Linked DNA regions of Homo sapiens. The protein of the gene in region 1 interacts with the protein of each later gene in a biochemical or structural test. Each region holds a gene or a part of one and is shown in the gene's direction. Other genes may lie near its edges.

Region 1 (7,679 bases):
CCGGCTTCTATAAGTTTTTTTCTATGTTTAAAACTTTTAATTTCATTTTTGTACTTAATTTTTTTTTTTTATTAAACACACACATTAGCCTAGGCTTACACAGGGTCAGGATCATCATTATCACTGTCTTCCACCTCCACATCCTGTCCCACTGGTAGGTCTTCAGGGGCAGTAATGTGTGGAACTGCTGTCTCCTGTAATAACAATGCCTTCTGGAATACTTCCTGAAGGACTTGCTTGAGGCTGCTTTAAAGTTAACTTTTTTAAAAAATAGAAGATGCACACTCTAAAATATAATAATAAAAAGTATAGGATATTAAATACATAAACCAGTAGCATTGTCATTTATCATCAAGTATTGTTTATTGAACATAGCTGTACATGCTGTATACGTTTCTATGGCTAGCAGCGCAGTGGGTTTGTTTATACCAGCATCAGCACAAACACATGAGTAATGCGATGCGTTACTACGACGTCAGTAGGCAACAGGAATTTTTTGGCTCCATTTATAATCTTATGCGACCATCATTGTATGTGTGGAATATTTTTGACTGAAACTTCATTATGCAGCAAATTACTATATTAGCAAATAAAATTGAGCTATATATAATGAAGAAGTACACATTATAACCAAGTGGGTTTATTCCAGGGATGTAAGGCCTGGTTCACTATTAGAAAATCAGTCAACATAGGCTGGGCACGGTGGCTCACGCCTCTAATCCCAGCACTTTGGGAGGCCGAGGCGGGTGGATCACCTGAGGTCGGGAGTTCAAGACCAGACTGACCAACATGGAGAAACCCCTTCTCTACTAAAAATACAAAATTAGCCAGGTGTGGTGACAGGCACCTGTAATCCTAGCTACTAGGGAGGCTGAGGCAGGAGAATCGCTTGAACCCAGGAGGCAGATATTGCAGTGAGCCGAGATCACGCCATTGTACTCCAGCCTGGGCAACAAGAGCAAAACTCTGTTTCAAAAAAAAAAAAAAAGAAAAAGAAAGAAGAGAAAATCAGTCAACATAATCTACCGTATTAACAGACTAACAAAGAGAAATTACACAATTCGTATCAGTGGATGCAGAAAAGGCATTTGACAAAATTCAATAGCCATCCATGATAAGAATACACACACACACACAAAAGAGGAATGGGGGAACTTTCTCAATCTGATATAGAGTGGCTACTACAAGAAACTTACGGCTAACATTATGATTAATAGATTGAGTGTGTTCTCCTAAGAGAAACAAGGCAAGGATGGCTGTTCTGTTTTGACCACTCTTATTCAACATAATGCTAGAAGTTTTAGCTAGTGCAGTCAGGTAAGAAAAGGAAATAAAAGATATGCATATTGGAAGGTAAGAAATAATACTGTCTCTATTTGCAGATGCAGATGACTGTCGATGTAGAAAATCCCAAAGAATCCATGAGGGGTAGAAAACCCAAATACCTCACCCCCTTGAATAAGTGAGTTCAGCAAGGTCACAGTATACAAGATCAATATGTAAAAATCGATTATATTTCTATATAATTTAATGAACAAATGGACACAAAAATTAAAAATAGCATATCCTGTTTATAATTGCTTTTAAAAAGTATAAGTGTAACAAAACACATAAAGGAGTTAAATGCTGAAAACTACAAGAACACTGATAAATAAAAGAGACCTAAATAAATGGAAAAAAAATATATCATTAAGAATTTTAAGATGGCAATGACAGCGCATTAAACCAAGCATGGGGCCCTGTGCATCTGCACAGGTCACACTCCCATGAAGCCAGCCCCGCACTAGTATCAAGAGTGATGTTTGAGTCTGGGTGGGGTGGCTTATGCCTGTAATCTCAGCACTTTGGGAGGCTGAGTGGGTGGATCAGCTGAGGTCAGGAGTTCGAGACCAGCCTGTACAACATGGTGAAACCCCGTCTCTACTAAAAATACAAACATTAGCCAGGCGTGGAGGCACGCATCTGTAATCCCAGCTACTTGGGAGACTGAGACAGGAGAATCACTTGAACCTGGGAGGCAGACCTGAGATCACGCAACTGCACTCCAGCCTGGGCGACACTGTGAGACTCCATCTCAAAAAAAAAAGAATGATGCTTGAACTTAATACTCATAGCTGGTCCTGAAAGGTGAAGGTGTCCATTGCCCTGCCTTCCTGACAGACTCCATGTCACCCACCTTCCACAGATGAGAATCTGCTTGAGGTTTCACCCCACACAGAATCTCCAGGCCTCTGCTTCCTGCAGTGTTGGGAAATCCTTCTGAGTATCTAAATCTAAATCTTTGTCCTTTGGGCCTGTTTCCTCTTGTTCTGTCCTCACTGAATATGGGGAACAGCTGGTCCCTCTGAGTAATTAATTCTTGTAGACTTGGACACAGTCTGTAATTCCTTTTCCCTTTTCTCATTGGGATGACTCTCCAGGGCTTTCTCCAACTCTGGATCTCCAACTCTGACACCTCCCCCAGGTTCTCTGTGTGCTTTGGAAGGCATGGGGTTCACAAGAGCCCCAAAGAGCACCAGTCAGGGGCCAGAGGGCTCAGTGCTCTGGGGAGATGGGGAAGATTCCAGCACTGATGAACAGACTCCAGCCCCCCCTGGGTCCTCTCTTCCAGCTCCCAAAATGTACTCTATTTTTATCTGTTTCACGAACGCTGGTCCAGATAGTCTTCCATCCCCCACTGACTGTTAGAAGTGACTCTCAGCTTTTGTCCATCTCGAAGTTTCTGTGCTCAGTGTGCCTCTCAGACTAAAGGCTTCCTTTGGGAAGCCCCGACTCTCGCTTCTCAGGACAGAGATCCAGGGGTTGGGGGAGGAAAAGGTTGACCAGAAGCCATAGCGGAGCAGGGAGAGAGAGTGTGAAAGACAGACCCGCGGCCAGGCTCCCAGTTCTCCAGCTCGTAGAGGGCCCAAGTGGCCGCTATAATCTGAAAGAGCAGATATCGTAATCCCATAGTACTTCCTATTGGCTGCAGGACACAGTTCTGTCCTGACACTGAAATTTGGGTGTGTCAGGGTTCTGGGAATTCACAACGCTCACAACTTGTGAAGCAGCTGTGGGGTGGGGGATGGGGAGGGTTTCAGCAGAGGAAGTGAGGTCAGTCAATAATTGATGCCTGTCTGAGCTTTTAGCCATTATCTCCCCCAGCCTCTATTCCTGTCAAAAGGTGGGGCGGGGCAGGAGGAGGGGTCCCTGGCTCATCTTGTAGAATCCCCATATTAGAGTAAGACACCTTAGAGGTCTACTCCTGCTTCTAATACCCACGTCTTTCCAAGTGTCTCTGAGGCCACCCCCTCCCCAGCCTTTTCATTTATTCATTTAATTAACGAACGCCTTCATTGAGGGCCTCCTCTGAGTCAGGCTCAGCCAGCCAGCATCTTTGCTATGAGCTGAGATAAGCATCATTTCCGTCTATTCTCACAACCACCCTATGAGGCTGGCACGGTTTACTATGCCTATTTAGCAGATGGGGGACTGAAGCATGGAGAGGTGTCACTAGCCTACGGTAACACAACCAGCCTGCATTCCTAGTAGGTAGTTTGACTTCAGAGTCTCTGTGGATAACCAGGAGGCTAGGACTAAGACCAGAGTCCTGCAGGTACTTAGATGGTTGGAGCAAAGCAGGGCAGTGAGGTCAGTGCTCCCAGCCTGTGCAGGAGCATCAGGAAGAGTCTGTGTCCCCCTCCCCTGCCGGTATGAAGCCATTCTGCTTCCCTCCCCAGCTGCCTTGTGTCAGCAGAGTTCCAGGGAGGCTCCATTCCCCACCTCTATCTAAAGCTCCATTTGCTGGGGTGGGGGCCCTGCCTGGAAGGGGAAGGTCCAAGGCTGCTCCCAGCGTGTCCCTCCATCCTGACTGTCCCTGGCGGGGCGGGGGTGTCTTTGTCACCCAGCTGCACAACGGCCAGGAAGGGCTCAAACCATCCTCAGGGCTAACCCAAGGCCGTCCTCTGGGCCTGTATACCCCTGTGCTGAGTGCGGATCGGGAGAGGCTGCTGAAGACAGGAGGGGACAAATGGGGGACGAAGGGGCCCGAGGGAGGGGACTGAAGGATTTGGGCCAAGTCGGGAGTTCCCGAGGGCGGAGTCAAAACGCATCTGGATTTTGCTAGCCCCAAACTCTGCCCTCATTGCTGCAAGCCTCCTAGACCGAGGACCCCCGGGCTGAGGGTGGGGTAAGGATAGGTAGTGTCCCTCCCCGTCCCACCCCCGCCTGTCCCTTCCTCGGTGGCCCCTTCCCGGCGCCCCGATTCCAGGCGGCCCCTCCGCTGCTGCCAGCCGATCCCCCTCTACCCCCACCCACTACTCCGGCCGCCAGACGTTGCCTACAGTCTCGGCTCTGTCTCCCACGGCTGTGGGTCCGGACCCCACGGGACCCCTATGGGACCCCCACAGGACCCCCACGGCCTGAGTCCAAGGCCCGCCCCCTCGGGGAGGCGGATGTGGGAGGCCCGGCCCGGGTGCGGGCCAGCGACCCGGGAGCTGCGGGCGGCTGGGAGGGGAGGCCGCCCTGAGGGGCTGGGAGCGGCGCGGGGGTGGGTCCCGGTCCTGCAGCCCCAGCGAGGGGCGAGCGGCGGCCAGTCGGCGAGCTGGGCAATAAGGAAACGGTTTATTAGGAGGGAGTGGTGGAGCTGGGCCAGGCAGGAAGACGCTGGAATAAGAAACATTTTTGCTCCAGCCCCCATCCCAGTCCCGGGAGGCTGCCGCGCCAGCTGCGCCGAGCGAGCCCCTCCCCGGCTCCAGCCCGGTCCGGGGCCGCGCCCGGACCCCAGCCCGCCGTCCAGCGCTGGCGGTGCAACTGCGGCCGCGCGGTGGAGGGGAGGTGGCCCCGGTCCGCCGAAGGCTAGCGCCCCGCCACCCGCAGAGCGGGCCCAGAGGTGAGTCGAGGTCCGCGGACGGGACCGGGTGGCGGGCGGCCTGACCCCCGCTTCAGTGGGCCCTTCCTTCGGGCGGACCCCAGAGTCACCGCAGAGTGGTCGCGGGAGGCTCAGTCCCAGCTCATTAGAAAGGCAAGCTGCTCCTGGCTGACCACGCACAGCTCCCATGACCCTACCTGAGACTTGGAGGGGAATGGACGAGACTGGACTGGAAATCAGAAACTTGGTTCTAGTCGGGTGACCTGGGGTCAGTGACTTCACTTCTCTGTTCTCCTACCCTCTTCATAAAATGGGCAGTGGGATTCCTGTCTTGCTCTACTCACATAGAAGGGATCACACGTCCTCCAGGCCGCTGGGTGGACCTGGAGTGAATGCCTACTTCCACAGCTGTTGAGCCTCCCAGCAGAGCTCACCTTTCCCAGATCAGTCCTTCCAGCTGTTGCTTGAGGAATCTGACACTATCACTCCAACCTAGGAGTCTCACCCTAGGCGCGCATGGTCAGTCACCTCCTTGCCACGACCTTCCTTCAGGATCCAGGCCAAAGGGGATCCCAGTCTCCCCCCAGGCTGGGACCCCAGATTTTTCCATGGAGGCCAGTGCTGTGAAACCCATGGCTGGGCTGGCTGCCCCAGCTCCTCTTTCCTTCTCCAAGGACAGGGGCATAATGGACAGTTGCTCTCACTCTCTCTATGTATGGCCAGCTTCTGGCTGAGTCAGGGTCTGTCCTAATACCTGTCCTCTCACCTGTCCCCCCATTTCATTGGTTTGTTAGAAATAGCTACCATTGATTGAGTACTAACTATGTAGACACTTAGATATATATATTTTTTCTCATGTAATCCTGGCCGCAACCTAGTGGAAGAGGGGTTACTATCCCCTTCCTACAGAAAAGGAAACAGACATGAATATGGGACTTGTCCAAAACTCCTTGGATGGTGGGGTGAATGGCATGGTTGGGGTCTTGATAACATTTCAGTGCTTACTGTGTACTACTTATACTCTGCTAAATAATTGTACTACATTTTACCTATGAGATAACACTATTATTATTCCCACTTTACATATGATGGGAAGCCTAAGCCTCAGAAAGTTTAAGTAACGTCTCAAATTTCATACCTCTAAGTGGCAAAGGCAGGATTTGAACCCAGGTCTCCATGCTCCAGAGCCCACACCCTAACCTCTGTGCTACACTGTGCTGCCTCCATGGTCTGCCTGAGACCTGAAAATCCAGGCATCACCTGGATGTTCCACTGCATCACCCCGCTGTGAAGGGCTAATAAATCACATGGATGAATCGTAAGGGCAACCCAATATGAACAGCTGGGTCTGCTCCTCTGCTGTTGGGGTAAGGCCTACTGAAGTGCAGAGTGAGTCCAGAAGGTTGTGCTTGATATGGCGCTTCTCCAGCCCTGTGAAGATCACTGCTGTGCTGAGCCACTGCCGTTGATGGGAGTAGGTTTTATCAATCCTTCAGGTGTGCTAGGGAGAAAAACATTGATAAGCACCTTTCGGGCATACCACTACTCTGGCTCTCCCCACCTGAGGCTCAGACTTTGACTAAGCCTATGGCAAACAGATGATTTCTGGGCAGCAACACCACCTTTGTTGCCTGGGTCAACATAGTGAGACCCTATCTCTACTAAAAATAAAACTGGGCATGGTGCTGCACCCCTGTAGTCCCTTGGGACTTGGGAGGCTGAGGTGGGAGGATCACTTGAGCCCAGGAGTTCAAGGCTACAGTGAGCTATGATTGCACCACTGCACTCCAGCCTGGGCGACTGAGCAAGACCCTGTCTCAAAAAAAATTAAAAACAAACAAAAACGCTGTCTTCATTTAAACAAATCTGAGTAGGGCACCCGTTAATAACAACAGTAGTGGGCAATTTGTACACGTCCACCGAGACCCATGTCTTTTTCTTCCTTTGAGGGACTCATCTAACCCCAAACAACTGGAGGAATAACAATGACCAAGGAATGATTTATTATCAGCAATTTAAGTTTATTAAGACACGCTCAGTGACTATGGACAAGAAACTGAACATCTCTGAGCCTCACTTTCCCCCGTTGGACTGTTGTGATGATTAAATCAGATAAACCATTCAAGTTCAGTACTTAGCACATAATTAGTACTCAGAGAAGGTTAACTGTTATTATTAAGTATTTCATAGTGTTTAGCTAACGTTTGAAATTAGTTTAACGTCTGTAATTTCTGGCCAACAATAGTGATGCTTCTGTCAGCAGGAGATCTTTCACAAAGTTTTGCTTAGAAGTGAAAGGATCCTGCCAGGCCCCAGGAGTCTGTCTGTGCTACAGTCAGATTTCAGGGTAAATCGTACAGAGTCAGCTCTGAGTTTGGACTGGTCGGGACTCAGCATCCTCCTGTACTTGATCTCACACTGGGTCCAGTTAAAAATTGGACAGTCCCAATTTTACTCCATCACATTCCCAGGATTAGACCATAGATGGGTTCTGCAGATGCAGACAGCCTCGCTCCACAGTGTCACCACGTCCCAGCTTTGGTGTTTACCCTTGGCTGTCCCTTCTGTAGTAGATGGGGAGTATCCTGGGTGGGAGTGAGTGTCCCCTCCCTCTGCATCCCACTCCCACTCACCCAGCAGGGCCCTGTACAGCAAAATGAAAGCAGAGGAACCAGACTTAGCGTTGTGCCCACACAAACTGATCAGAACTCCCTGGGGAACTTTTAAAAAATGCATGTTTCTTGCTGATTCCAGGACTGAATCAGAGTCTGGAGTGAGGGTGAAACCAGTGAATATGCTTTTCTCAGTGAGCACTTCAGGTGATTCTGAT
Region 2 (7,095 bases), on another chromosome or scaffold:
CTGAGGTGGGAGGATCACCTGAGCCCAGGAGGTCAGGGCTGCAATAAGCCAAGATGGCACCACTGCACTCCAGCCTGGGCGACAGAGTGAGATCTTATCTTAAAAAAATAAATAAATAAATAAATAAATATAAATACAGTTCCACCATATCAGGCACCTCATTTGAAACCCACCCTGTTTATGCTTTTACCTCATTTAGTCATAAGAGTAAGGCAACAAGGTCATACTCTTGATCCCGGTGGGCTAGGGGAAGTCCCCATATGCTGGTGTGGGACCTCCACCCCAGCCAATGTCCAGGCTCTTGACACCATCTCGGGAAGGAACTTGAGGACAAGTGGGAAAATACTGAAAGTACAAAGATGTATTGCAAAGTGAAAAGTACACACTCAACAAAGAGGAGTACAGGTGGACTCCAGAGAGAGTCTCCTGCAGGGGGGGTTTGGGGCTGCTACCTTAATGGGTTTCTCTCTTTTTGTTTTGAGACAGTCTTGCTCTGTCCCCAGGCTGGAGTGCAGTGGCACGATCTTGGCTCACTGCAACCTCCGCCTCACGGGTTCCAGCGATTCTCCTGCCTCAGTCTCCTGAGTAGCTGGGACTACAGGTATGTACTATGGATTTCTTTAATCAAGGAGTGGAATATTCATGAAGATTCCTAGAAAAAGGAGATTTTTGAGAACTGTGGTGCCACCCACTTTTACACCAAATATGGGTGTTCCTGTAACCGTCCTGGTGCTGGTGGGTGTGTGTTTATGTTAATGAGCATATAACGAGGTCCTAGGTGAGACCTAGGTCATATGTAGGGCCTTGTTGGGTCCAATGTGTCTTAGCCAGGTTGGTCCACACCTAGGGTTTTCAAGAGTCTTATCAGCCCCCACCTGCTGCAACTATTTCAACAGTTTCCTTTTGCTAGTCATGTGAAACTGCTGCCTGGAATTTTCTATTCTCCTGTGACTACCCTGTGTTATTCCTGTCTCGCTTTTTTTTTTTTTTTTTTTTTTTGAGATAGAGTTTCAGTCTGTCGGTAGGCTGGAGTGCAGTGGCGCGATCTCGGCTCACTGCAACCTCTGACTCCTTGGTTCAAGAGATTCTCCTGCCTCAGCCTCCCAAGTAGTTGGGATTACAGGCACGTGCCACCACGCCCAGCTAATTTTTGTATTTTTAGTTGAGATGGGGTTTCACCATGTTGGCCAGGATGGTCTCCATCTCCTGACATCGTGATCTGCCTGCCTCAGCCTTCCAAAATGCTGGGATTACTGGCATGAACCACTGTGCCTAGCCTCCTGTCTCACTCTTTTTAATTTTTTTATTTTTATTTATTTGTTTATTTATTTATTTATTTTGAGACGGAGTCTTACTCTGTTGCCAGGCTGGAGTGCAGTGGCGCGTTCTCGGCTCACTGCAACCTCCGCCTCCTGGGTTCAAGTGATTCTTCTGTCTCAGCCTCCCAAGTAGCTGGGATTACAGGCACGTACCACCACGCCTGGCTATTTTTTTTGTATTTTTTTTAGTAGAGATGGGGTTTCATGGTGTTGGTCAGGCTGGTCTTGAACTCCTGACCTTGTGATCCACCTGCCTTGGCCTCCCAAAGTGCTGGGATTACAGGCGTGAGCCACCGTGCCCTGCCTTTATTTTTTTATTTTTGAGATGCAGTTTTGCTCCTGCTGCCCAGGGTGGAATGCAATGGCAAGATCTTGGCTCACCACAACCTCTGTCTCCCGGGTTCAATTCTCCTGCCTCAGCCTCCTGAGTAGCTGGGATTACAGGTGCCCGCCACCATGCCCGGCTAATTTTATATTTTTAGTAGAGACCAGGTTTCAGCAAGTTGGTCAGGCTAGTCTCGAACTCCTGATCTCAGGTGATCCACCTGCCTTGGCCTCCCAAAGTGCTGGGATTACAGGCATGAGCCACCATGCCCGGCTTTCTCACTCCTGTTTGCAATTTACAGGCAAGGAAACTGAGGCACGGGGAGGTTAAGGAACTGGGCTCAGTGTTACACAGGAAGGAAGTGACAGAGACACCAGGTTCTGCCATTTCCAACGCTCATGTTAATCACTTGTTTCGCTTCTAACATCCCTAGGTGGAAAATTCCACAATCTCAAACGATGGGCCTGAGTAGACATAATAAGTTACAGAAGAGCATGGATCACATAGTCCCATTTCTTTTTTATAAAGGCATACACATATGTCAGAGGCATTCCAACCACAGCGATTCTGTCTTGAATAGGAGCTTGGTAAAATAAGGCTGAGACCTACTGGGCTGCGTTCCCAGGAGGTTAAGGCATTCTTAGTCACAGGATGAGATAGGATAGGAGGTTGGCACAAGATACGGGTCACAAAGAGCTTGCTGATAAAACAGCATATGCAGTAAAGAAGTCAGCCAGATCCCAGCAAAACCAAGATGGCGATGAGAGTGACCTCTAGCCGTCCTCATGGCTCATTATACACTAATTATAACGCATTAGCATGCTAAAAGTCACACCCACCAGCACGATGACAGCTTACAAATGCCATGGCAACGTCAGGAAGTTCCCCTATATGGTCTAAACGGGGGAGGAACCCTCAATTCTGAGAATTGCCTACCCTTTTCCTGGAAAACTCATGAATAATCCACCCGTTGTTTAGTATATAATCAAGAAATAACTATAAGTATAATCACAGTGAACAGCCCAAGCCGCTGCTCTACCTGGAGTAGCCATTCTTTTATTCCTTTATTTTTATTGCATTTTATTTTTGAGACGGAGTTTCGCTCTTGTTACCCAGACTGGAGTGCAATGGCGCAATCTCGGCTCACCGCAACCTCGGCTCACCGCAACCTCCGCCTCCTGGGTTCAAGCGATTCTCCTGCCTCAGCCTCTCCCGAGTAGCTGGGATTACAGGCGCCCGCCACCATGCCTGGCTAATTTTGTATTTTTAGTAGAGACGGAGTTTCTCCATGTTGGTCAGGCTGATCTCAAACTCCCGACCTCAGGTGATCTGCCCACCTCGGCCTCCCAAAGTGCTGGGATTACAGGCGTGAGCCACCGCGCCCGGTCCGAGACTGAGCTTTTTTAATTCTTCCAATCACCAAGTTATTGAAACCATTTTTGCAAAATTTTAACAATGAGAAAATTCTGACATCTCAAATCTGGCCAGGCACAGCGGCTCACGCCTGTAATCCCAACACTCTGGAAGGCCGAGGTAGGTGGATTGCCTGAGGTCAGGAGTTCGATACCAGCCTGGCAAACATGGTGAAACCCCATCTCTACTAAAAATAGAAAAATTAGCCGGCCGTGGTGGTGGGCACCTGTAATCCCAGCTACAAGGGAGGCTGAGGCAGGAGAATCGCTTGAACCCAGGAGGCGGAAGTTGCAGTTAGCTGAGATCGCGGCACTGCACTCCAGCCTGGGCAACAGAGTGAGACTCCATCTCAAAAAAAAAAAAGTAAAAATAAGCCCGGTGCCGCAGCTCACGCCTGTAATCCCAGCACTTTGGGAGGCCGAGGCAGGCGGATCATTTGAAGTCAGGAGTTCGAGACCAGCCTCGCCAACATGGCGAAACCCTGTCTCTACTAAAAATACAAAAAAATGAGCCGGGCGTGGTGGCACATGCCTGTAATCCCAGTTACTTGGGAGGGTGAGGCAAGAGAATCTCTTGAACCCAGGACGCAGAGGCTGGAGTGAGCTGAGATCACACCACTGCACTCCAGTCTGGGGTGACAGAGTGAGACCTCTCCAAATAAATAAATAAAAATAAATAAAACTAACAAGCAGCACGACTCCAAAATCAGAAAACTTGTAACGACCAAAAAAGTGCAAACGTGCCTTAAATCAGTCATGTGCGACAAGCAGCTATAGCTAGGGTTTGGCCGCAGGCTCAGAGAAGCGCATGAATGAGCTAAAGCCACAAAGCGCGGGGCTGGAGGTTTGGCTCCCAAGAAGCGAGGAAATGGGTTCGGAACTCTTCTGCCAAGTCCCAGTAGATCTACCCGGTAAACTTCCGGTGAGTTTCCAACTTCCGTGCGGGGCAGCAGCTTCGGCTGGTCCTAAGCGGACCGGAAGTTCGTCAAGTTTCACGCTCCGCCCCTCTTCCGGACGTGACGCAAGGGCGGGGTTGCCGGAAGAAGTGGCGAAGTTACTTTTGAGGGTATTTGAGTAGCGGCGGTGTGTCAGGGGCTAAAGAGGAGGACGAAGAAAAGCAGAGCAAGGGAACCCAGGTAGGTGCACCCGAGAGTGGGGAGACGCAGGAGGAGCCCCGAACCCGGGGCTTCTCGGCGCTCCCCGCGTACTCCGCTCTGCCCCCTTCTCTCCTTCCATTTCCTCCCCTCGGTAATTCGCGCCTCCCGCGGCTGTTTCCAGGGCAACAGGAGTAGTTCACTCCGCGAGAGGCCGTCCACGAGACCCCCGCGCGCAGCCATGAGCCCCGCCCCCCGCTGTTGCTTGGAGAGGGGCGGGACCTGGAGAGAGGTGCGAGGGCGGAGCATGAATGGAGGAGGCGGGGCGGGGCATGATGGGAGGTGATGGGGCGGGACCTGCAGCGCGGTGCGGGGGCGGGGCATGAAGGGAGGAGGCGGGGCTGGGGGCGGGGCATGATGGGAGGAGATGTGGCGGGGCCTGGAGCGAGGTTGTGGGGGTGCAGTAGGAAGGGAGGAGGCGGGGCGGGGGCGGGGCATGATGGGAGGGGATGGGGACCTGGAGCGAGGTTGTGGGGGTGAGGCTTGGAGGGAGGGATGCATATGGGGCGGGGCAAGGTGTTGGGAGGCCCATGATGGGGGCTTTAGGGGCTGAACCTGGAAGGTTGAGGGCGGAGCATAGTAGGAGGAGGTGGGGTCAGAATGAGAAATAGGGATGCTTGGGGCAGAAGTGAGGTAGAGTCTTAAGAAGAGGAGGTGGGGGGAAACTACATGGCATGGAGGCCGTGAAGGCAGAGCATGATTAAAGGAGAATGGGCCCTACCTAGAAAAAGCAGGTGGATTGGACCTGAGGGGGCGGGGCCTACAGCAGGGGCGGGGCTTAAGACCAAGCTGAAGGCTGGCGTGGAACAGAAGGGGGCAGGTCTTGTTAGAAGGATGGGGAGGGTTTGTAGGCTGGCAGGAACCAGGGTTGTGGCTGAGAGTAGGGTCTTTGGAGAGATGGAAAAAAAAGGGAAAGCCCTGTCAGGACCTGTAACTGACCTAACCTAACCCTTCTTAGCCCCACAAGGCTCTCAATCCCCTGTATTCTACAGGCTGCTCCGTGACCCCACCATGTCCTCTCCTACCACGAGTTCCCTGGATACCCCCCTGCCTGGTGAGTGACTCTCTTCCCCACCCAGCCCTTATCACACACGAGCAGAAGCTCACTGTACCTCTCCCGGATTCCACCCTCTTCCAGGAAATGGCCCCCCTCAGCCTGGCGCCCCTTCTTCTTCACCCACTGTAAAGGAGGAGGGTCCGGAGCCGTGGCCCGGGGGTCCGGACCCTGATGTCCCAGGCACTGATGAGGCCAGCTCAGCCTGCAGCACAGACTGGGGTGAGACAGGGCCCTGGAGTTGATGTGGGGGCTTGGGGAGGGGTTTAGGAAGGGAGAAAGAAATAGAAATGGGAATGGGAGGCCCTGATCTTTGCTTTTTGTTCTTGCTTTCTCCTTAACATATACATCTTTCTAAATTGCAATTTCCCTGAATGTGAGCAGCAACTCCTCTCTCCCTCCATCCTCTGGCTCTTTGCCTGGGGATCTCCTGTGGGCCCATCTCTCTGGTTCCTGTTTCTCCTTGTGGCTTTCTCATGGCCTCTACCTACCCACCCCAGTCATCCCAGATCCCGAAGAGGAACCAGAGCGCAAGCGAAAGAAGGGCCCAGCCCCGAAGATGCTGGGCCACGAGCTTTGCCGTGTCTGTGGGGACAAGGCCTCCGGCTTCCACTACAACGTGCTCAGCTGCGAAGGCTGCAAGGGCTTCTTCCGGCGCAGTGTGGTCCGTGGTGGGGCCAGGCGCTATGCCTGCCGGGGTGGCGGAACCTGCCAGATGGACGCTTTCATGCGGCGCAAGTGCCAGCAGTGCCGGCTGCGCAAGTGCAAGGAGGCAGGGATGAGGGAGCAGTGTGAGTGCAGCGGGAGGGGGCGGTGCCGGCCTGGCCCCCCGCCTAGCCCTGGGGTTCTGCTGAGGCCTGCATCCCCCTACAGGCGTCCTTTCTGAAGAACAGATCCGGAAGAAGAAGATTCGGAAACAGCAGCAGGAGTCACAGTCACAGTCGCAGTCACCTGTGGGGCCGCAGGGCAGCAGCAGCTCAGCCTCTGGGCCTGGGGCTTCCCCTGGTGGATCTGAGGCAGGCAGCCAGGGCTCCGGGGAAGGCGAGGGTGTCCAGCTAACAGCGGCTCAAGAACTAATGATCCAGCAGTTGGTGGCGGCCCAACTGCAGTGCAACAAACGCTCCTTCTCCGACCAGCCCAAAGTCACGGTACTGCCCCCTCCACAACCTTGAGTGTGACGGTCCCAATGGGGTAGAGCCAGCTGGGCCATCACCCAGGGTGTGGGAGAATGAGGCTCCAGAGGGCAGGGGCTTTGGGAAGAGGATCCCCCAGGGTGCAGGCTTGGCCTCAAGGTGGCCACCCAGACTTAGGCTCACAAAGACCTGGGAGTGACCCTGGTCTCCTGTGTCCCAGCCCTGGCCCCTGGGCGCAGACCCCCAGTCCCGAGATGCCCGCCAGCAACGCTTTGCCCACTTCACGGAGCTGGCCATCATCTCAGTCCAGGAGATCGTGGACTTCGCTAAGCAAGTGCCTGGTTTCCTGCAGCTGGGCCGGGAGGACCAGATCGCCCTCCTGAAGGCATCCACTATCGAGGTAATGGTCCATCTGCCCACAAGGAACCCCAGAGATAGCTCCAGGACAGATGCTGGGAGCAGAGTTAAGGAAGACCAGTGCTTGCCGTTGTAGGATGACATTCCACGGCGAATAGAGTCTTCTATGAGCCAAGGAGAGAAAGGAAAAAGGGTCTGAGGCTGAGAAAATTGAGGATCAGGCTAGAGGCGCTATTGCAGAGAAAAGTTGCCAAAAAGGCTTTTCAGAGGAGTTAGCATTTGAATCAAAGTAGGGATAACATATAAGTATTGAGCACGTGCTGTATGCCAGGCTCTATTCC
Region 3 (7,024 bases), on another chromosome or scaffold:
TATTACCCCTGAATTTTCACTGTATTGATATCTACTGACATGTTATTTCTTTAACTAGTCAAACTTACCAGGCCTATACCAGAAACAAAGATATTTGAATTGAACATATAAACAGTTCAGGAAAAGAAGATCCTTATTTTGCTTAAGTTTCTGACAATCCTTATTTAGCTTATGGATTATCTAGGGCTCTGCTATCCTAGCCATAGTCACACGTAGCTTTTTTTGAAATTTTATTATTCTATTTTTTTGAGACAGGGTCTCTCTGTGTTACCCAGGCTGGAGTGCAGTGGCACGATCATGGCTCACTGCAGCCTCGACCTCCCAGGCCCAGGCAGTCCTCCCACTTCAGCCTCCCAAGTTGCTGGGACTACAGGCACTGCCACCATGTCTGCCTGACTAATTTGTTTTTGTATTTCTTGTAGAGACAGGGTTTCGTCATGTTGCCCAGGCTGGTCTTGAACTCCTGGGCTCAAGCTGTTCTCCCGCCTCGGCCTCCCAAAGTGTTGGGGTTACAGGTGTGAGCCACTGCACTCGGCTACTTATAGCTATTTAAGTTTAAATTAAAATTAAATAAAAATTCGTTTTCTCAGCAGTAGCCGCATTTCAAGTGCTTAGTAGCTGCTTGTGGTTAGTGGCTGCCATACTGGACAGCGTGTATATAGAATAGTTCCATCATCACAGGAGGTTCTGCTAGCCATTGCTGCCCCAGGACCTTTACCTCTTCTCACTTGTTAACTCTACTAATGATTTGTGGAGTCAAAGATGGAAAGACATATATAAACTAATTTTATCACTAACTAGCTGTTCTTTTTAAAATAAAACACAATTTGGAAGGGACAGTTGAAGCTGCTGGATAAAAGGAGTTTGACTTTTCTGTAGATCTTATTTATTATTAGTGTCATCGATTCTAATTTGGTTTAGAGCCTTAGAGAGAAGAAATAATTGTAGCTAACCCTTTTTTCTGAATTTTTACTGTATGTATGCCAGGCATTGTTTATAATACCCATATCTCATTTAAGCCTCAAAACTTCCATAAGTACTATTGTTGTCACATTTTACAGGTAAAGAAACTGAGGACAGAATGATTCAGTATCTTGCTTCAGGAGGTACAGTGAATGATTATGATTTCTAATCTTACCTGGGATATGATCGAGGCAGTCCAACTCTAGAAACTCCATCTTAACTATGTTTTTTGGTCTTTCGTTCAGAAGACCCAAATCATCATTGTTCTGCTGTGCTTTACTATGCCAGTATAGACATGACTTGGCTTGTGTATTTTGTAGGTCTTTAAATAAATTTACCTTCTATTGTGCCTTTCTGGGCTATCTTCTGTCGTTCTTTTGTAAGTGTTTAAGAAAGGAAAAATAATGCTCATCTAAGCAGCACATAATTTGAAGAATAAATCTGGCATGAAAATAATGCATTTCAAAGCCAAATTAGTTTTATCTCTGCTTTTCTGCATAATTCTTGTCACTTTCCTCTTGCATTTTCTTACATAATCACAAACTGATATTAAGTTAGGAGGAAAGTTGTAGTAATTCAGTTTGTCTGTCTTACCAAAATTAGTCTATCTTCCCTGAGCTGTTAAACACTGTAAGAATAGTAATTGCAAATTCATTGGGGATTTTTAAAAAAACATTCAACATCTATTTTTGTAAATGTTTTACAAGGTCAGGGCTGTTTAAGAATCGATGAAACTATGGATCTTGTATCTTCTTATTCCCACCTTCCTATCCCAAAATGCTTATATGTCATGGTGAGTTAATGTGTACACTTAACTATCCAAATCTCATGGTCTTTCGGGTGAAATATGTCCATGGGACTGCCAAGTGCTTTCATAAACATTAAGATTTGTAATTTCCTTTACAGAGAATAGAGATACTTAGTATTAAAAGTTGCTTTAAAGATTTTCTAATCTGGTTGGTTCATATCAAGGTGAACAGTCTGAAGTCCAGAGAAGGTAACTGACATCCAAAGTTACCTGTCTAGTGATTGGAAAAGGGAAAGCCAAGATCTGGACTCCTCTTGGCATTAAGTGCCCTTTTGTTTTCAGGTTTTTTTTCTCCCTACCACGCTCACGATATTTCTGAGGCTTTGGTGTAAGCATATCCAGTGTAATTTAGGGAAGGGAGGAAAGAATTTTTTGGCCTGTTAGCAACTTTTTATACCTAACATTGTTTGAGCTAAGTAGGAATCAAATCTGACAACCAGAGAGAAATGCTTATTTTCTACATATTAAAATTGATTCTTTTTCATTCTGGAGATGGAAAAGAAAAGCCCTATATCTAATTTAATCAATGAGACCTTATTAGAAAATGGGAGATCCAAGATTGCACAAAGTTCAAATTAAAGCAGGCAACTCTGACATCTAGCAAAATATACGAATCTCCTCTTGACTCTCGAAAACAAATCACATTCCTAACCAAAAGCTAAAGTTTGGGGTATTTAGGGAGCTAGGGAGTCCTAGGGAGAGAATTGGACAGGTCTGAGGAGAAAAAGGATAATTTAAATATAAAAAAGTGGAAAAAATCGGTTTTAAGTCATAGCATGTCTTTGAGGTTGATGAAATGTTCTGCTACTTCTATATGTGGTTTTACTCTTTGGTACCAAGATTTTAGGACATACTTTGATAACAAATAGGGGCATGTCCTCTTTGCCCCAATCTGAAACCTCTTGACCCTTTATTTTCCTTTCCTGCTGTTATCTGGTAGTACAAATATTCAGTCTAATCTGTTGATCTGGCATCTGATTTGCAGCAAAAATACCTGAAGTATTTTCATCACTCTGCTGTAGCCACCTTTAAAAAGAAAAGGAAAGAGAAGAAAAAGGCAGAGCCAAATAGTATTAATGTAATTGCTTAAAATCTAAATTAAAATACTCATCTTGCTCTGCGTTATTAAGATGGTGTCAGTTTTAGAGGTGCAGGGCTAGTCCTATATGCAAAACAGTAATGTCTGTAGCTATTGCGGGCTGACTTGCAGAAATGAGCGGCTTCTCTAGAACATTCATTTGCATAAAGGAAACTATCTTTCAGAAAAGAAAAGCCAAAAGTTTCATAAGCAGTTTCACTCCAGTGACTACATCAGAGTTTTAGTAAGGTACTGGGAACTACAGTATTTGAACAGTTCAGCATCTTTATAATTTTTGTTATAAGCTAAAATCTGAACTTTAGAGAAGACTCTCTCTTGAAAATAAAGCATTAAATTCTCTAAGGTGTGAGGAAGTCCTTACCTGGTGATTTTCCCAAATCTCTTTTATGTTCTTAGTGTTTGAAAAAGGAACTTTTTTTTTTTTAATAAGAACCTAGGTTTGCAGTATAGATTGGTTTCTTAACAAATATTTTTTTTGAGACAATAAGCCTGGATCTGAAGAAAGAACATACAATTGTTAATTATGCATGTATATGCTTTTGAGTTCAGGATGTAAATGAATATTCACTAGGTCCTGTTTGGGAAGAGGAGGAGAGAGGGGTCTCTCTGTTGATTCAGAATATATTTTTATACATAAGTTTTAATGCTTTATTTGTAGTTTCCCCTTAATTGTAGGGCTGCTGTACTGTGGATATTTTGCTCTACAATCTGAGATTGTTAGGGTATAGTTACTCCAACTATTCATGTATTATCCTCTCCCTGTCTTTTTGTGTGTGTGTGTGTGTGTGTGTGTGTGGTTTCTTTGTGGTGTGCTTATGCAAAGTAGAAGTATTCCAGACCTTTATAGCTTTTTTTTCTTTTAGTTTCAAACACTTCAAGAAAAAAGGTGGGGGGGAGACTCTCTCAACGGTTATAATTAGGCATTAATTAAGCCATTATTCAGTTAACTAAATGCAAGATCTTTTGTTTGTTTAGATGGAAAAGAAACGTATCTTTTTAATGAAGGAGGGATATTAAATGGGCCCTTATTTGATCATTTTGCTGCAGTATTGTAATAAGTATATGCTTCATTTATTCCCTGAATATTTATTAGTTCTGAGGCTTAATAATTAGAGTATACACAAACATGAAAAATTAAATGCAGCAACATTATAAGAGCCGTTACAAGGTAGTATAGGAGTAAATTGTACAGACAACTCACATCAGGACCACTGTGGCCTGGAAGGACATGTGAGTTTGCATAGGCAGAAGGAAGAGGGACATTATAGACAGAGTAATGGCATGAAAAACTGGGAGATAAGCATGAGTGTTGAGTATCTGTAGAGCAGCACTGTCCAATAGAATTTCTGCAGTGATGGAAATGTTCCACATCTGTGCTAATACAGTAGCTGTAGCCACACATGGAACAGCATTTTTTAAAAAATTAATTTATGTTTCAGTAGCCACATGTGGTTATCATATCAAATAGCACAGATCCAGAGGCAGTGAGCAGCCCTGCCTGACCTCAGTGGGTGTTCCTCATGGAGCCTAGTATGGTGGTGTGGAGGAGATGCTCAGAAAGGTTGACTTCCAGTGAGAATTTTAGGGCCTTAGAGTGCCAGAATAAGGAAACATTGGGAAGTCACTGAAAGTGTTTGAACATGCAGTTTGCACTGGAGGGATAGAGCCCAGTGCCAGGAGATCAGTAAGAAAGCTATTGAGTTATGTGTGAGATGATAAATCTCTGGTAAAGGTAGACATGGAAAGAGAAGGATTTAAAAATAAATAAATAAATAAAATAAAACAAAAAACCATGAAGGCTTGGTGATTATGTGGCTATAAAGTAATGAGAAAGAGATGTCGGAGATATATCCTTAAGTTTCTAAACTTGGTGGCTGGAAAACTAATAAAGATGTTACTTAAGAATAGGGAAGAGCTGGTTGTAGAAGAAATAAAAATTGTGCAAATGATAAATTAGACTTGATGTGTTAAATTTAAGGTGCGATATCTAAGTCAAAGTATGCTACAGGCAGGTTGGAGATAAGGTTTGGGAGGACTTGAAAGCTTTACGTTAGACTCTCTGCAGTCATCTGCTGGGTATTCTGAGACAACCACAAAGAGAGAAAGAACTGGTGGATTGAATCTTCCATTGGAGCCCACGGTTAGGAATTAATAGAAGGAAGAGGCTAATTTGAAGTAGACTGCCTGAGAGGCTGTTTGACATAGACCAAAGAAGAAACTGGAAGAAAGGCATGGGGTCAGAGGAGTGGGAAAACCAGGAAGCCACTGGAAGAGAGATTCTAGAAGTAGGTTTGGAGGGGAAAATGTACAGTTCAGGGTGAAGGAGAAGAAGTCAGATAATCATGTGAATGCAATTTCAGAGAAGGCTGAATACATTAAGAAGTGAGAGAGTCTTATATTGCCTTAAGTGACTTGAATTTTAAGATAGATGAGACCTCTTCATATTTGAAGGTTGAGGGGAAGAAGTCAGTGGACAGAGAGCAATTGGAGGTGATGGAGTTAGCCATCTGGAGCACAAGTGACAAATGTTGACCGTGGTAAGGAGGGAGAGTTGTCTGAGAAAGAAACAGAATGGGGTCCGAGTGAGAAGAAAGCATGTGGCAGAGCTCCTGTGCACTTTTGCTGATTTTCCTGTATTGTTGGAGGTAAGTCCTTTCACTGGGATGGTGAGGAGGAAGATCAGCACATGGTAAGGGAAGAAGAACCACCGTAGGTAGTGTGCCAGGCAATCTATAGAGAAGTCAAATTCTAAACAATTGGGGGGAAACCTGGGGTGAAGTGTGGTGAGGCTGCTGTATAGGAGACTAGGTTAATTGTTACTTTTTGGTATCACTTTGTGGCCTGGTAGGCTTAGGGATAGCAAATGGGTTCAGAGATAAGACTCTAGAGTCAGATTGCCTGGGTGTAAGACCAAGCCCCAACACTTACTTGTTTTATAAGAAGCCTGATGAACTAAATGAATTGAGAAGCAGTAAGCAATGAGAATCTTGGTAATGAAGTAGTGAAATATCAAGTTTGGGAATTTGTAGATAGAGCATTTCCCTAACAATTCTAGATAAAGGTTTCTAAGAAAAGTATAGAAATTGAACTAACAGAAGAATCCCTGTAATGATTTTAAAGGTTAAGTTAATTAGAACTTAAAAAAATAAGTATTGTATTCTGAATTTTTCTGTGGCTTTTATTACAGCATTCATTACGGTTAAAAACATTTCTTTTTCATTAAACCAATATGTGCTTAATGCAGAAAGATTCTGCAGTGGATTCTTGTCATAGTGTTAGAAGGAAAGGGGAGTTTGATTTATGCCACTGGGGGGAGGGTTATTAATAGCCAGCCACAGAGCCCTTCAAAATGTGGCTCCAAAGGCAGAAACAATAAAGGAAACTTTTTATAGATTTGATAGCATTTATTATGTGACCAAACATACTCAAAAACAAAACCTGAAAGACAGATAAAGAGATTTGCAACAAGATATTGTTCTTTACAAGAAAGACTTATATCAATAGGAAGCACCACCCCAATAGAAAAATTGGTAGTGGACGTGAACAAGCATTTCACAAACAAATGAAATGCCAACTGCTGACGGGAAGATTCTGCGCCTGTAATCCCAGCTACTCTGGAGGCTGAGGCAAAAGGATCACTTAAACCCAGCAGTTCAAGGCTGCAGTGAGCTATGATTGTGTCACTGCACTCCAGTCTGGGCAACAGAGTGAGACTGTCTCAAGAAAAAGGAAAAAAGAAGTACAAACTACTAATGAACACACAATGTTTTGGTTATGTCCTGGATCAGACTTGATTGAAATGGGGATGATGTCTTCCTTTTTCCTGTATTTTGTTATTCTTTGTATACTAGGAAGTATCAGTCTGGGAAGACTGGGCTTTTCTCATTTAAGGAAAGGAAGCCCGAATTTCCCAGCCTCCTAGGAGAATCTGGAGTGTCAAGGAGGTACAAGATATATACAAAGTAGAGTTATAAGAGGCAGGCACCCTGCTTCCCTCCATAACATGGTTTTCGTCCAGGAGTTTCCTTATTGCAGTGTGAGGGGCTATCAGTTATACACAGTTTCTCAGTCACCTGGCGTAGATGATGAACCTTGAAGACACCAGTGCTTCCTAGAGCATATTGAAATAGGCCCCTTTCTCTCCTACCTGAATT
Region 4 (7,024 bases), on another chromosome or scaffold:
GGGCTGGAGTGCAGTGGCGCGATCATAGCTCACTGCAGCCTCAAACTCCTGGGCTCAAGAGATGCTTCCATCTCAGCCTCTGGTGTAGCAAGCACTACAGGAGCAGGCCACCACGCCCGGATAATTTTTAAACTTTTTGTAGAGATGGAATCTCGCGATGGTTACCCAGGCTGGTCTCAAACTCCTGGACTCAAGTGGTCCTCCCACCTTGGCCTCTCAATATGTTGGGTTACAGGCGTGAGCCACCGAGCCTCGCCTGGATTTTTTTTTGAAGCAACTGATTAGAATTGGATTGTACTTGAGATACCCCTGCTGAAGGCTGCAAAAATCATGTTTTTTCTTACTTCAGCTAGTTTGTGAGCTTCCATAATGGTTTTCTGCTGTGCATAATCATAAACACTTAAAAAGAGCCATGGGCTTTTCCTGCTTATCCCATCATGCATAGGTATCTGGATGATTTTTGTCTATGGACATTACATAAAATATCATTTTCAGTTTGATATTATTGTGTGGTTTTCTCTTTGTATGAGTTGAGTTACATGAAGATGTGGCCCACAAATATTAAATTTGTTGAGAAGCTTGAAAGGGAAAATTAAGGGAAACATTTTACCTCTTAACGGATAATTTGGCAAAAATTTGAACGTTAGGGCAAACGGTACTCTGATGTTATTCTATCGGCATTTGAATTGTGGCTGGGTCAAAATTAGGTTTAATATTAGTCTGTGAAAATGGCAAGGCCATCTTACCTCCAGTAGGTCGTGTTTCTTTGTAGCTTTATCTTCATTCTACATCGTTCATTATTAGAATTAAAAAAATTTTTTTTTGACTTGTAGTTCCTTTTGAGGTAAGAGATTAATTTTGATTTCTTTAGCTTAACTGAAAGTGTATAATTTTACTTGTTTTTACATTGTAGCTCTTGAATTTTTTGAAACCACGCTAATTTCATAAGTGAATCAACTTGGACAATCAGCTAATTTAATGCTTCCTTTTTTATACTTTGGAAACATGCTCTGTACTACACAGCTTATTAATAAGAGTAAATAAGGTTTATATACATATTGACAAATATTTGTTGTACTATATAATTCATATTAATGAACAATTGAATGCCAACCAGACTATGCAAATTAGTGGACTTTTTGCTTAATGAAAGAACCCACTATATCAGAGTTCCTCGATAATCCACGTAAATTTGGCTCTGGGGTTCATATTCCAGATTTCTTCAATTAAAAGAAAAAAATATACTTGCTGAGTGCGGTGGCTCACGCCTGTAATCTCAGCACTTTGGGAGGCCGAGGCGGGTGGGGATCACTTGAGGTCAGGTGTTCGAGACCAGCCTGGCCAAAATGGTGAAACCCTGTCTCTACTAAAAATACAAAAATTAGCCAGGCCTGGTGGCAGGCGCCTGTAATCCCAGCTACTGGGGAGGCCAAGGCAGGAGAATCGCTTGAACCTGGAGGTGGAGGTTGCAGTGAACCGAGATGGTACCACTGTACTTCAGCCTGGGCGACAGAGCAAGACTCCATCAAAAAGAATAAAAAAAAAAACAGAAACAAATTTCACACTTCATTTTATAATCTGAGTTAATGAGCATGATTATTAGACTTAGAGAAATTCAATGTAGACACACAGTTTATACACAGAAGTTGCAGAGGGATAATATGCAAAATGAATTATGTAAGCTTACTCTAGTTTGGACAGAAAACTGTAGGCAAAAAACATTTAAGTAAAATATTGTTTAATTTACATAAAGTTAAGAATATGGGCCGGGTGCGGTGGCTCATGCCTGTAATCCCAGCACTTTGGGAGGCCGAGGTGGGTAGATCACCAGGTCAGTAGTTTGAGACCAGCCTGATCAACATGGTGAAACCCCACCTCTACTAAAAATACAAAACTTAGCTGGGCGTGGTGATGCGTGCTTGTAATCCCAAGGTACTCAGGAGGCTGAGGCAGGAGAAGCTCTTGAACCTGGGAGGCGGAGGTTGTAGTGAGCTGAGATTGTGCCACTGCACTCCAACCTGGGTGACAGAGCGAGACTCCGTCTCAAAAAAAAAAAAAATAAACAAAAGAAGTTTCCTTAATCTATTAGTACCGGTGAGTTGCACCATCTTAGTCATAGAGACTTTTTTGAGAAGTGGAAATGAGCATGGGTTATAGTCTCATCTTAATATCTGAGTGATCTTGAAGACTGAAATTTCTAAGTCAGCTGAAAGTCGGAATAAGATATATTACGGTGATTTCAATTTTTAAATGCAGTATTCAAAGGTGACAGTTTGTCAACTGTAAGGGACTAAAGTTGACATTCCATGAATGTTTTATACTCATGTATATCCATGCATTTACATACTATTTTCCCTCTTTTCTTGGAAATTCACATTGCTGCTTTTTAATTATCAATCCTTAGCCATTAGCAAGAAATGCAAAGCCTGTGATTCACAATCCTAAGATGTTCTTCCCACTCCTATCCCTACCATAAAAATCACTAGTGTTCCTTCAAAAGTCCCTAATCATGTCTCCAGAAAAAGAAAGGGGCTGGGCTTGGTGGCCCACACATGTAATCCGAGGCTTTGGGAGACAAAGGCAGGAGGATCACTTGAGCCCGGAGTTTGAGACCAGCCTGGCCAACATGGCGAGACCCTGTCTCTCCAAAAAATTAAAAAATTAGCTGAATATGGTGGTGCACACCTGTGTCCTAGCCTCAGGAGGCTGAAATGGGAGGATCCCCTGAGCCTGGGAGGTCAGAGCTGCAGTGAGCTGTGATCACACCACTGCATTCCAGCCTGGGTGACAGAAAGAGACCCTATCTCACCAAAAAAAAAAAGAAAAAGAAAATGATTTTGCGTGTGTGTGTGTGTGTCTAAAATACTAATAGTCATTTCTGGGCACTTCTGGAACCTGAGAATGTGGTCAGAAATATAAGGGGTTTTTTTTTTTTTGTTTCCCCAGTTGGAACTTTTGATACATTATTCCATAGAAACAGTAGGAAAATGGGCCGGGCGTGGTGGCTCACGCCTGTAATCCCGACACTTTGGGAGGCTGAGGTGGGCGGATCACCTGAGGTCGGGAGTTCGAGACCAGCCTGACCAGCATGGAGAAACCCTGTCTCTACTTAACAAAATTACAAAATTAGCTGGGTATGGTGGCACATGCCTGTAACCCCAGCTTCTTGGGAGGCTGAGGCAGAAGAATCGTTTGAACCTGGGAGGTGGAGGTTGCGGTGAGCCTATGTCTGCCATCGCACTCCAGCCTGGGCAACAAGACTGAAACTCCTTCTCAAAAAAAAAAAAAAAGAAAAAAGAAAAAACAGGAAAATGAAGTTTAGTCACACTATATTCAGTAAATTTTTGTGGAATCATTACAAATCTAACCAGCATTGGATTTATAGGGATATGGAATTAAGGATATGGATTTATAGTTGTAAGCAACTAACTAAAAAAACCTTATAAACATACCTTGTTTGTAACAGCTATTTTTAATGTAGAAAGATCGTTATTTGTAATTGCTACACATAGCACTTATTCTATGTTAAGTACCACACTGAATGCTTTACATATATTAACTCATTTATTTCTTTTTTTTTTTTTTTTGAGACAGCGTCTCACTGTTGTCCCAGCTAGAGTACAGTGGCGCGATCTCGGCTCACTGCAACCTCCGCCTCCTGGGTTCAAGTGATTCTCCTGCTTCAGCCTCCTGAGTAGCTGGGACTACAGGCACGTGCCACCACGCCCGGCTAATTTTTGTATTTATAGTAGAGATGGGGTTTCACCATATTGGCCAGGCTGGTCTCGAACTCCTGACCTCGTGATCCGCCCACCTCAGCCTCCCAAAGTGCTGGGATTACAGGCGTGAGCCACCGCGCCAGGCTAACTCATTTAATTCTTAACAGTACAGATGAAGTAACATTGTGTGACTAACTTGCTCCAAAATCACACAGCTATTAAGTGGTGGGGTGGAGTTTAAATTAAAGCAGCCAAAGTGCAGAGTGTATATTCTTAACCGTTGCACTCTTTCAAGTAGGCATGTAATGTGCTTTGCTTGGGTGACTTCAGAAGGGGAGATGTGTTTTGATAAGCTTACTATGTGTTTTGCTACAGCTATAAAATAAAACGTGTGGGCATTTATTTTTAGGCCCTGTTATATTACAATGTTAGATAACAAAAATATATAATCTTGAGGACTAAACCAAGCAATTACACCAATCGTGTTTTAGTAACTAATTGAGAACTTTGTGGATTTCTAAAGAAAGTGGATGGACACTTAACCTTCTCCCCCTTTCTAATTTGATTTCTGGCATTTGCTAGTTCGTATGATTTCCCAGTTAAAATATTTTGCTAGTGAAAAAAGTTTTAGTACATTTTTAAAAGTTTGTGAATTTTGGATTTATTCTAGACTTAACTACCTTAGTACTTTTAGTAATTTTGGTGATAAGTCTGGCAAAGGGTAAAACAGTTGTTTTGAAAAAGTTTAAGCTAAAATGTACACATACGTGTTTCTTGGTGTATTTTAAGCTTGTTACTACAAAATGCTATACAGAAATTAGTTGTAATATTTTTTTCTGTGCTCTGCTCATTACTGTCATTGTAATCTCTACTAAAAATACAAAAATTAGCCAAGCGTGGTCACGGGTGCCTGTAGTCCTAGCTACTTGGGAGACTGAAGCAAGAGAATTGCTTCAACCTGGGAGGTGGAGGTTGCAGTGAGCCGAGATGATGACATTGCACTCCATTACTGTCATTGTAATGAGCAGAGCACAGAAAAAAATATTGTAACTAATTTTGATATATATGTCTACATATATATGTCAACATATTAGTATTGCCGTGAAACTTCTTATGGGGCAGTAAGCCTATGTTGGCACAAAATCTGGTCAGAAGTATTAACTAAGGCAAGAAAGTTTGATATTTTAATTGATATGTGAAATGTATATTTTTTCTTATAGTTCTTTTTCTGATGAATAAATGAATACTTTATAGGTGAGGAATTCATATTTCAAGTGATTTTTAACTTTCTACCACGGTCACATAGTTCCTTAAGTGTTACATACAAAGTTTTGGTGCCGCAAAAGGAATAGCACTTGAATATAAAATTTTTTTTTAATTTTTAGCAAGGCAAGTTATTTTTATAGAACTCATAATTAACATAAGTGAGAGAGAACTCAAACCTGAGTGTCAAGCTTTATTACTATCTTGTGTAAAAAGAGGAACAAATTCAACCAAAACTAAAGTCCATCCTTCAGTAAAACTTGTATGTTAGGGTTGATACTGATGCGTAGGTACACAAATAAGTGTAAAATTCTAACTGAAAGAATATGCCAGATGGTTTATGGATGGTGGGATTAGGAGGGTTAAATTTTTTTCATTTGAACTTGTATACTTTGTTACCATGTTGTGGATTGTAAAATCTGTTTTGGATGTTGGTTTATACATCATGGTATTTAGCTTTTCTTTATTTTTTGTTTTTTTTCTTTGACTTAGTTACATACTCATGGTCCAAAATAGCAATTTGGTAAAGCCTATAGCCCCTATCTTAGAGTGTTTTAAAATGCAGGCCAGGCACAGTGGTTCATGCTTGTAATCCCAGCACTTTGGGAGGCTGAGATGGGCGAATCACCTGAGATCAGGAGTTCGAGACCAGCCTGGCCAAAATGGTGAAACCTTATCTTTACTAAAAATACAAAAATTAGCCGAGCGTGTTCATGGGTGCCTGTAGTCCCAGCTAAGGCTGAGGCAAGAGAATTGCTTGAACCTGGGAGGTGGAGGTTGCAGTGAGCCGAGATGGTGCCATTGCATCCAGCCTGGGCAACAAGAGTGAAACTCCGTCTCAAAAAAAAAAAAGAAAAAAGAATGTTTTAACATGTATTACATAAAATGCATAGGTTTACAAAGGAAACCAATTTATACTGAAGTACAACAAGGATTGAATTAGCATGAGTCATATTAAGGACATTATCTGGCACAGGCTAAGTTCTGTCTAATGTGGAAAACCTATCTCCTGCCTATCTTCCCCAACCACCTCATTCCCCTTTCCAAATTGCCCAATTACAATTTTTTGAGGATTCTACTAGAAAAAGTCTGTCCAGGAGAACTTTCTGAGATAATGGAAAGGGTATTTTTTACTGTCCAATACAGTAGCCACTGGCTGTACATGGTAATTGAGCATTTGGATATTGTGGCTTGTGCAACCAAGGAAATAAATTTTAAACTTTATTTAATATTAATAATTAACCACATGTAGGTAATGGCTACCTAATTGTGCAGTATGGCCTCAGAAGCTAGAAATTCTGGCCGGGCATGGTGGCTCACGCCTGTAATCCCAGCACTTGGGGAGGCTGTGGCAGGTGGAGCACTTGAGGTCAGGAGTTGGAGACCAGCCTGGCCAACATGGTGAAACCCCATCTCTACTAAAAATACAAAAATTAGCTGGGTGTGGTGGCACGTGCCTGTAGTCCCAGCTACTCGGGAGGCTGAGACAGGAGAATCACTTGAACCTGGGAGGCGGAGGTTGCAGTGAGCCAAGACTGCACCACTGCACGCCAGCCTGGGTGATAGAGCAAGACTCCATCTCAAAAAAAAAAAAAAAAAAGAAAAAGAATCTAGAAATTCTGGTGTGTGCAAATGTATGTATACATATTGTATTTAGTTCAACTTTATAAGGTATAACTGGATATGTCCAGTTTGGTTAGATACATGATTCTATCCTAGAAAAGCTTGTCGCTCTGTATTTTAAACTTTGAAAGATAGTTATTTACTCTTGTATAGAATTAGAATTTTTCTGTGGGTTAATGTTTTTTTTTGTTTTTTTTTTTTTTGCTAGTCTTTTTGTTTCTGTTTTTGTTTTGAGATGGTGTCTCACTCTGTTGTCAGGCTGGAGTGCAGTGGCACGATCTCGGGTCACTGCAACATCCACCTCCCGGGTTCAGGTGACTCCTGCCTCAGCCTCCTGAGTAGCTGGGACTACAGGTGTGCGCCACCACTGCCAACTAATTTTTGTGTTTTTAGTAGAGACAGCATTTCACCACGTTGGC

What was found.
Region 2: the proteins of ACVRL1 (region 1) and NR1H2 form a complex in vitro, tested with the Homo sapiens proteins (one study listed by BioGRID).
Region 3: of the proteins of ACVRL1 (region 1) and SMAD1, one has a biochemical effect on the other in vitro, tested with the Homo sapiens proteins (2 studies listed by BioGRID).
Region 4: the proteins of ACVRL1 (region 1) and EIF4E form a complex in vitro, tested with the Homo sapiens proteins (one study listed by BioGRID).

What each region holds. Positions count from the first base shown.
Region 1 is NC_000012.12:51,902,826-51,910,504, forward strand, and holds the start of ACVRL1 (activin receptor type-1-like isoform 1 precursor), read left to right. Parts: upstream 1-4,678; 5' UTR 4,679-4,870; intron 4,871-7,679. UniProt on the Homo sapiens protein: Type I receptor for TGF-beta family ligands BMP9/GDF2 and BMP10 and important regulator of normal blood vessel development. On ligand binding, forms a receptor complex consisting of two type II and two type I transmembrane serine/threonine kinases.
Region 2 is NC_000019.10:50,372,385-50,379,479, forward strand, and holds the start of NR1H2 (oxysterols receptor LXR-beta), read left to right. Parts: upstream 1-4,072; 5' UTR 4,073-4,192; intron 4,193-4,334; 5' UTR 4,335-4,442; intron 4,443-5,202; 5' UTR 5,203-5,221; coding exon 5,222-5,264; intron 5,265-5,348; coding exon 5,349-5,486; intron 5,487-5,764; coding exon 5,765-6,055; intron 6,056-6,137; coding exon 6,138-6,412; intron 6,413-6,617; coding exon 6,618-6,797; intron 6,798-7,095. UniProt on the Homo sapiens protein: Nuclear receptor that exhibits a ligand-dependent transcriptional activation activity. Binds preferentially to double-stranded oligonucleotide direct repeats having the consensus half-site sequence 5'-AGGTCA-3' and 4-nt spacing (DR-4).
Region 3 is NC_000004.12:145,484,839-145,491,862, forward strand, and holds part of SMAD1 (mothers against decapentaplegic homolog 1), read left to right. Parts: intron 1-5,438; exon of another isoform or gene 5,439-7,024. UniProt on the Homo sapiens protein: Transcriptional modulator that plays a role in various cellular processes, including embryonic development, cell differentiation, and tissue homeostasis.
Region 4 is NC_000004.12:98,919,117-98,926,140, reverse strand, and holds part of EIF4E (eukaryotic translation initiation factor 4E), read left to right. Parts: intron 1-7,024. UniProt on the Homo sapiens protein: Acts in the cytoplasm to initiate and regulate protein synthesis and is required in the nucleus for export of a subset of mRNAs from the nucleus to the cytoplasm which promotes processes such as RNA capping, processing and splicing.